Regions from separate parts of the Homo sapiens genome. Here regions 1 and 2 are each linked to region 3. The links come from fine-mapping of genetic effects on gene expression. A gene starts in region 3. Each other region holds a variant in brackets. All regions are shown on one strand. Distances are from middle to middle.

Region 1 (2,771 bases), 21 kb after region 3:
AAATATTAATTGCATAGGAGGAAAAGCGGAGAAAATATTGGAAGAATTCATACCAGAAGCCTAACAGTGTCTATTTTAGGATAGGAGTATTTAAGAGGATATTTCTTCATTTCTTTATTATATTTCTGCAGATTTTTATAAATGAAAATCTTGCGTTTAAAAAGCAGCATTGTCTATAAAAGTTAACTAAGGAATTGGATACATTGAGGGGGAAAAAGCTTGGGGAATATAAAAAATATACGTCTATCCTTCAATTCACAAACATGGATGACTAGAACCCGTTCAAGTTCATACAAGATGTTGCAATACTGACAGAGCACACTGGCTTGTTAAATATCAAGTACAAGGCCGGGAGCAGTGGCTCACACCTGTAATACCAGCACTGTGGGAGGCCGAGTCAGGCAGATCACCTGAGGTCAGGAGTTTGAGACCAGCCTAGCTAAGATGGTGAAACCTCATCTCTACCAAAAATACAAAAATTAGCTGGGTGCAGTGGTGGGCACCTGTAGTCCCAGCTACTCGGGAAGCTGAGACAGGAGAATTGCTTGAACCCGGGAGGCGGAGGTTGCAGTGGGCCGAGATTGTGCCATTACACTCCAGCCTGGGCGACAGAGTGAGACTCCGTCTCAAAAAATGTATGTATATCAAGTACAATGCAGATAGAATGTTTATACTGAATCCACACATTTCTTTCTTCTGAGAATCCCGTAACCTCCAGTATACAGATTAGTTTTTCTCTTTTTTCTATCACTCTTCACCTTATTCTAAGTCTATTTCTCCAATTTTATACAGATCTTGGAGTGTTTGCAACTGGGTACTTGTAAATTCTGCCCCTCCCATTTTACCATTATACCCTGTGGTTCCTAGAAGTGCCAGACCAGCCTTGGGACAACCACTCTGAAGCAATTTTTTTCCCACCTGGTCTTCTTTCCAGATGCCATGTTTGGCCAGGTGAGAAGAGTTTACCTGGTTTGTGGCAGGAGCCTTCAGGTCTGGGTAAAGACCCTGATAAGGAGTTAGCAAGGGCCATGCCCTACTGTCTATGGCCAGACATCCTGACACTTGTGTAATCTGCCTATCCCCCGGAGGCATTTGCATTTGGGATCCTTGGGTTATAGGACAAGAGGATGAGTGAGAGTATTTATGAATTTTCCAGTCCATTTCAAGGTGGATCTTACATAGTTGTCACCTCTAAAATCCAGCCTTTAAAAATACTGCCTACAATTTATTTCCATGATGTTAGAAAGAATACACTCTTACCTTGGCATTCTGGAGGAACAGAATTCCAGTTTCCAGTAGCCAAGCACTGTAGCACACTTGCTCCCACCAGGAGCAAGCCTTCATTGCAGGTGAAGCTGCAGACTGACTGGTACCTAAAGGCACCGAAGGGGTGGGAGCAGTTCACCCGGGCCTCATTTGGAACTGGGAGATCCTGGCACTGCAAAGCTAAGGGATGAGGAAGTAAGGAATAAAGAAACAGTAATACACATGTACTCATTGATTTTTGACCATTAACTCTTTCTAGTGTCAAGAACAGGGATTCCTGAATTGGGCTTGTTTAACATAGAAGATAAGAAAAAGTGTCATTTAATTATAACGGCACATGAAGGATTTTATTAGGAAATGCTAAACCTTTGTTGA[G/A]CATCTTGGCAACATGTGTCAATAATTTTTAAGTTATCATGCTTTTGGACCCAAGAATTTATGCTAAGTATGTAATCAAGATGCATACCAAAAAATCTATTTAGAGATTTTTGTGAAGACATTATTTGTAAGAGCGGAATATTGAAAACAAACACAAATGCCATTAATTGAGGGTGGAAATTAATGATGGTGGATCCATGAAAAGAATGTTAAAGGTCACTAAAAATAATATATTTTAACTTGTAAAGATAGGAGAGAGGTCTCAATGTATGATGTTAAATAAAAAATCAGAGTAAAAATTATAATATACACCATGATCTCAAAGATGTAAAATAAATAACCATATACGAAGAGAGCACACATATTCCATGTGTTGTCTCTTCTCATCTTTAAAATGGTAGTAATAATTGTAACTACCTCATAGAGTTAGACTGAGATCATAGAAAGTGCTCAATGAACATTAGCTGCTATATTAGTAGCAGTGGTAGTAATAGATAGTAATAATATCATTAAGGCTTTGCGTCACATGCAGACACTGAGTTCAGGAGTGGGAAACATTCAGAAGGCCTATGAAGGGGGTTAGTGAGACCACATCTCTGGATACTTAAGAGAATATCCAACTATCTTTTCTTGATTAGACATTTACCTTCCTGGAGACAACAATGGCTTGAATAATCCCTTATGATCCGTTTTAAGTGTGTCAAAGAGCTCATTGTGTCTTTTTCTCCCAGATAACATATACAATACATTCCATAACTCAGACTAAGTGTCAGCATCATGGTGTATAGCCATCTATTCTATTGCCTTCTTGTTTTTTCTTTTTTTTTTTTTTTGCTGTTCAATTTTTTATTATAGTGAGATATACGTAGCATGAAATTTAATTTACCATTTACCATGTCACCAATATCAAGTGTACAGTTCAGTGGTATTAAGCACATTCATATTATTGTGCCACCATCACCATTATTCATCTCCAAAACTCTTTTCATCATCTCAAACTGAAACTCCGTATCCATTAAACCATAACTCCCTATTTCCCTCTTCCGCCGAGCCCTTGGCAACCTCCGTTCTACTTTCTGTCTCTATGACTTTGACTACTCTAAGTTCCTCATATGAGTGGAATCATACAG
Region 2 (2,771 bases), 23 kb before region 3:
ATTTGGCTTTTCTGTAATGTCATATCAATGGAATCATCATTACACACCCTTTTGTGTTGGATTAGTGTTAGCTGGTATGGTATATAATTTTCTATCCTTTATTTTTTACCTATCTTTGTCTCTCTCATTAAAGTGGATTTCTTAAATTCTGCATACAGTTTAGCATTGCTTTTTTATTCAATCTTATTTGTTTCTTAATTGTAGTGTTCTTTCCATTTACTTTTAATGTAATTGATGATATGGTTGAATTTAAAACTGCCATCTTTATATTTATTTTCTATTTGTCTATCTGGTCTTTATTCCTTTTCCCCTTCCTTTCTGTTTTCTTTTGGATTGAGTATAGTTAGTGATGTTTAATCTCCATTGTTGCCTTCTTAGCTTTGTTTTCTTAGTGGTGCCCTTCCGTTTACAATATATAGTACATTTTTAACTTGTCACAAACTTCCTTCAAATAATATTATACTATTTCACTTGTAAGAACCTTGCAATAATATATTTCCATTTCTTCCCTCCCAGCCTTTGTGCTATTGTCATACATTTTATTTATATATACATAATATACCCCACAATAAATTGTTACTATTTTGCTTTAACATTTAGATAATCAATTGCCTTTTTAATAGATTAAAACGAGGAAAAAATTTCTCTATATTTATCAACTTCTGGAACTTTTCATTCCTTCTTATGAATCTAAATGTCTCTCTGACATAATATTTCTTCTATCTAAAGGAGTTCCTTTAACATTTTTTTCTGCTCTGTTAGTGAGAAATTCTTTCTGCATTTGTATGTCTAAAACACTCTTTATTTTGCCTTCATTTAAAAAAGACTTTTTGACTTGGTATAGAATACTAAACAGACAGATTCCCCTATCTTCTACCCTCCCAACACTTTAAAGATGTCCCTAATTGTCTTCTGGTGTGCATAGTTTCTAACGATAAGTCTGCTATCATTTCTTGGTTTTGTTCCCCTGTATGTGGTGTGTGTTTTTATCTCTCACTGCTTCCAATATTTTCTCTTTATCACTGGTTTCCAGCAACTTGATAGTGATGTGGCTTGGTGTGGTTTTCTTCATGTTCCTTCTTCTTAGTTTTGTCAAACATCTTGAATCTGTTGGTTTGTAGTTTACATTACATTTGGGAATTTTTCAGTCATTATTTCTTCAAATACTTTTTCTGTTCCTGCTACTTCTGGGATCCAATTACACATATGTTAGATCACTTGATATGGTCCCACAGTTCACTGATGCTCTGTTCACTTTCTTCAGCCTTTTTAATCTCTGTATTTCACTTTGCAGTTTCTATTGCAATGTATTAATATTTTCTACTATTTCCTTTCACAGTGTCTAATGTGCTATTAATTTCATCCAGTGTTTGTTGTATTAGTGGTATCCTTCAGTTTATAATATATTTTTTTATCCTTTATTTTTTACCTTTCTTTTCTATGCTTTATTTTTTACTTTTCATGTCAACAATTGTATTCATCTACAGAAGTTCTGTGTATGCATATTTATATTCTCTATCTTCATCATGCTCATGCTTTTCTCTGCTTTCTGGAACATATTGAGAAGATTTATGATAGCTGTCTTACTGTCTCTGCCTGCTGCTTCTATTCTCTCTTTCACTTCTCAATCTGTTGAGTTTTTTCTTGGTTATGAGTCATCTCTTTCTGCTTCTTCTAATGCTTGTTTATTTTTATTAACATTGTGAATTTACATTGTTGTTTGTTGCATTCTTGTTAACTAGT[A/G]TTGAGTTTTATTCACAGTTAAGATACTTGAAATCAAATCTTGTTTTTTATTCTGTTGCCTCCTCAGCAGCCTGTAGTCTAATTTTATCCACCCACTGTTTCTAAATCCTTCTGACAATTCTATCCAGTGCTCATTTATTAGGAGGTCTTTCTATGTTTGATGGTAGGAACATAAACGATTACCGGCCCTGAGTAAGGTCCAGGGACTGTTCCACCTGTTCCTTTCAAGTGACATTTTTCTTACCCTCAGTACTTTCCTCACATGTATGTGCAGATCAGTATTCAACTTGACAAAACCTCTCTGTAGATTCTCTAGAGCTCTTTCTCTGTGATTATACTGTCCTCTGCAGGACTCTGCCCTAAAATCACAAATTCTAGCCATTTGAGCTTCTCCGAAGTCCAAACTCTATTTCCTCAACCCATAGAGACTCTGTCTGGGTTCTCCCTGCTTGTGCTGTTCCCTGGAAACACTCTTCAAGCAGTAAGCTTAGGTGCTCATAGGGCACATCTGGTTTGTTACTCTTCTTTTACTGTCTTGAGTTGTCTGTCATTCGATGTCTGAAAACTTCTGTTTTATATGTTTTGTCTGCCTGTCTAGTTGTTGAGAAAAAGGGTAAATCTGGTTCCTTATGTTCTGAAGCCAAAGTCTGAGATGCTAAATTTCCATATAAAATATTTTTTTACATTACAGCAATGTCAGCTTCCCTTCTTTAATTGTACCTTTCCCCATCCCAACTGTGGAAAATCTATTCCACTCAAAACGCTTTGCATGAGTTTGCATGGCATCAGCATATGTTTGGATTCTCCAGGTGGGAGTGGAAAATAAGGCACATCCATTCAATAGCAATGAAGGATTCAGGTACTACAGTAACGTGCAATGTATCTCATGAGGTTCTGAGCATGGAAACCATAAGTTGAGTAGGTATATCTAGATTTACTTCTTGCATAAAGTCCTTAACGTGGACCACAAGTCCATGTATGATTTACCTCTACTTCTCTCTTCAGTCTTATCATACGTCTTTTCTCTT
Region 3 (2,771 bases):
CTCCAGAACTTTGGAAACTTACCCACAGGATGAGGGGACAGAATGACCAGTCATGGTTCCCTGTGTACTCACCATGTGAATCAGACCTTTGCCCTATCTGGTTCTGCCTCCGGTATTTTGCTTGTTATTTTCAACGCTAACTACAGACAAGAGAAAAAACTCCCAAGCATGAACCCAGCATGCTACAAGAAAGCCAACAACCAAGTCTGCATTCTACTCATGAGCAGGCAAGATTAGTGTTAGAAGGACTGTTATTTTCCTTGGGGTTTTAGCTTACGGCAGTTCCCAAAGGGTGTGGGTGTGACCTAGATTATCACTTTGAAGTACGATATTTAAAATGATTATTTTTGAGAAGGAGGGATCTCTTCTTATTATAAGACCAAGATGGTATGTAATACCCTCCAAAATAACCCAGTTACAATGAGAGTTTTAAAAAGGTTAATATTATACACTAAAAGATCTCAAAATATTACATTATTTTTTGGCAGATTACTTTGGTTTTGTAATTGTAAAAGAGGAACACATCTTTCATAATGAAGTGTGATGTAAGGAAAAAAAGTGAGTCACACTAGCAGGTTTACCATTTAAAAAATAACTAACTGGAAATATTGAATAGACTGTATGATTTAGTTAATTTCTGAGAAGTCTTATTTTTAACATTTCAATTAGAAAAAATAGTTTGCAACTCAAGGATAGTATTTTATCTGAATTAAACCTCCTCTCAGTTACATATGCCTTTAAGTAGCCAAGGTAAACCATATCCCAGGACATGATGAACAGAGAGAAAAAAAAATGAAGAGTCACATTCAATAGGATAAATAAGTCAAATATGAAGCAGAAAAAAGGTGAAAGTACAAAAACATACAAGAACTGATGATATTTTGAAAGTCATTTATAAGGCAGCAATAAAATTATATGACAAAAAGCACAAGGTGTTCATTTTTAGTTTTAGAAGATGAAGCTATGTAGACAATGGAATAAATAATATGTAACTAGGAGTCTCATAAAAATACTATACAACTAAAAATCTGGAACAGGAGTTTGCAGGAAGGGCTAATGAGGGAGCAAGTGCCTGGTGCCTTTGAATTAACCAATATATAAGCCAACACAAACATACTAACAAAACTGTATTGAAAATAAACTTGAAAAGAAGGTAGCATCTAACCAATCAAATAGGGTGCTTTCTAAACCCTCAGAATGATAAACTACATTGTTGGATGCAAAATTAGCATTTGCCCAGTTTATTTAATTCAGTATACTCTCCTATTAGTTATATTTACTTACCTGAAGTTAAAAAAAAAAAAAGCCATGACATTGCAAAGGGAATGTTCTCTAAAAGAAATAGATTTTCCTCTCTAGAGAAGCCCACCCGGACTCCACACCTGAGTTACCTTGAGTTTGTGGGCTCAGGTCGGTAGCTCCAACTGATGCCCTGAGCAGCCACGTAGAACTGCCTTAGCTGTGCCGCTTCTGTCCCTTGGCTCCCCCAGCCTACCCAGCTGGTGCCCAAGACCACCAGGACCCAGAGGCGTGGGCAGCCTGGGAACATGCTTCCTTTCCTGCTCCCGCTGGCTGCCACCACCCCAGGACCTGGGCAGCGCTTGCCGAGCTGCTAACCACACTCCGGGCTGTCCCAGCTGCAATGAGCTCTAGAGGCTGTGGGTGGCAGCGTCCTCCTCCCCTGCAGTTCTTGCAAACGGCAGCAGCAGCCTCTGGCTCTCACTCCCTCCGCTTTTTCTGGGGCTTTTCCTGGCAGGGGTTTGGTGAGATCACAGCTCCCAGTGACCAGAGGTATTAGGGAGAGCAACCAAACTAGTGACTGTTTTACTGCAGGTGAAGAAGGGGCAGAGATCAGAGGCTCTAGCAGGCGGGACAATGCCCAGGGATTCATGAGCCGGACAAAGCTGTATCCCTCCATTTCCACCTGCCAACACCACGGAAGCAGTCGTCCGTTACCACTGACCTGAGGCCTGCCTGGGTCCAAGCTCACACTTGGAGAACCTTCTGTGCAGTGCAGTGGCACCCAACCACCTTAAGCAGATGGCTCCCCTTTTAATCTGAGGAAAAGAGTATTGTGCCCTGTTACTGGGCACTGAAACACTATTTTCAAGTGGTGAAGAAGCAGGGAACAAACACATGGACAAGGCCTACTGCTCTGAATCGCCTTCCTGGCCTCTATCAAGGCACAGTTCTGCCTTGATAAGGGCCTGTCGCCAGCTAAGCTGCAGCATAGCAGCGGGCTTGAAGAGCTTGGCTGAAAAAAATCAGTTGTCCAGATTTCAGTTTCACTTACTAGCTGTGTTGTCTTGGGCAAGTTACTGTACCTCTCTGTTCAGTTTTGACATCTGTGAAATAAGGATGACAATAATAATTTTTCCTGATAGGGTATGTTGGGAGGATAAAATGCTACTGTAAACTATAGTTCCAGCACTTAACACACAGAGGCTAGGCGCAGTGGCTCACGCCTGTAATCCCAGTACTTTGGGAGGCCAAGGCGGGTGAATCACCTGAGGTCAGGAGTTCAAGACCAGCCTGGCCAACATGGTGAAACCCTTCTCTACTAAAAATATAAAAAATTAGCCGGGCGTTGTGGTGGACACCTGTAATCCCACCTACTCGAGAGATTGAGGCAAGAGAATTGCTTGAACCTGGAAGGTGGAGTTTGCAGTGAGCTGATATCATGCCATTTTACTCCAGCCTGGGCAACGAGAGCAAAACTCCATCAAAAAAAAAAAAGAAAGAAAGAAAAAGAAAGAAAGAGAAAAAGAGAG

The links. PIP is the estimated chance that this variant, and not a neighbour inherited with it, causes the effect.
Region 1: its variant is fine-mapped to the expression of F5 in whole blood (TOPMed, PIP above 0.99).
Region 2: its variant is fine-mapped to the expression of F5 in whole blood (INTERVAL, PIP above 0.99).

The regions. Positions count from the first base shown.
Region 1 is chr1:169,605,689-169,608,459 of GRCh38, forward strand. SELP (selectin P) reads right to left here. Exons shown (of 17, transcript NM_003005.4): 9 at 1,261-1,446. Among named protein-coding and RNA genes, the nearest start is that of F5, 21 kb to the left of the region's middle. The variant G/A (reference allele first, on the strand shown) is at 1,642.
Region 2 is chr1:169,562,243-169,565,013 of GRCh38, forward strand. All of the region lies in intron 3 of F5 (coagulation factor V), which reads right to left. Among named protein-coding and RNA genes, the nearest start is that of F5, 23 kb to the right of the region's middle. The variant A/G (reference allele first, on the strand shown) is at 1,744.
Region 3 is chr1:169,584,838-169,587,608 of GRCh38, forward strand. F5 (coagulation factor V) reads right to left here and starts at 1,644. Exons shown (of 25, transcript NM_000130.5): 1 at 1,392-1,644. The coding sequence starts at 1,549. RefSeq lists enhancers at 1,118-1,619, 1,620-2,119.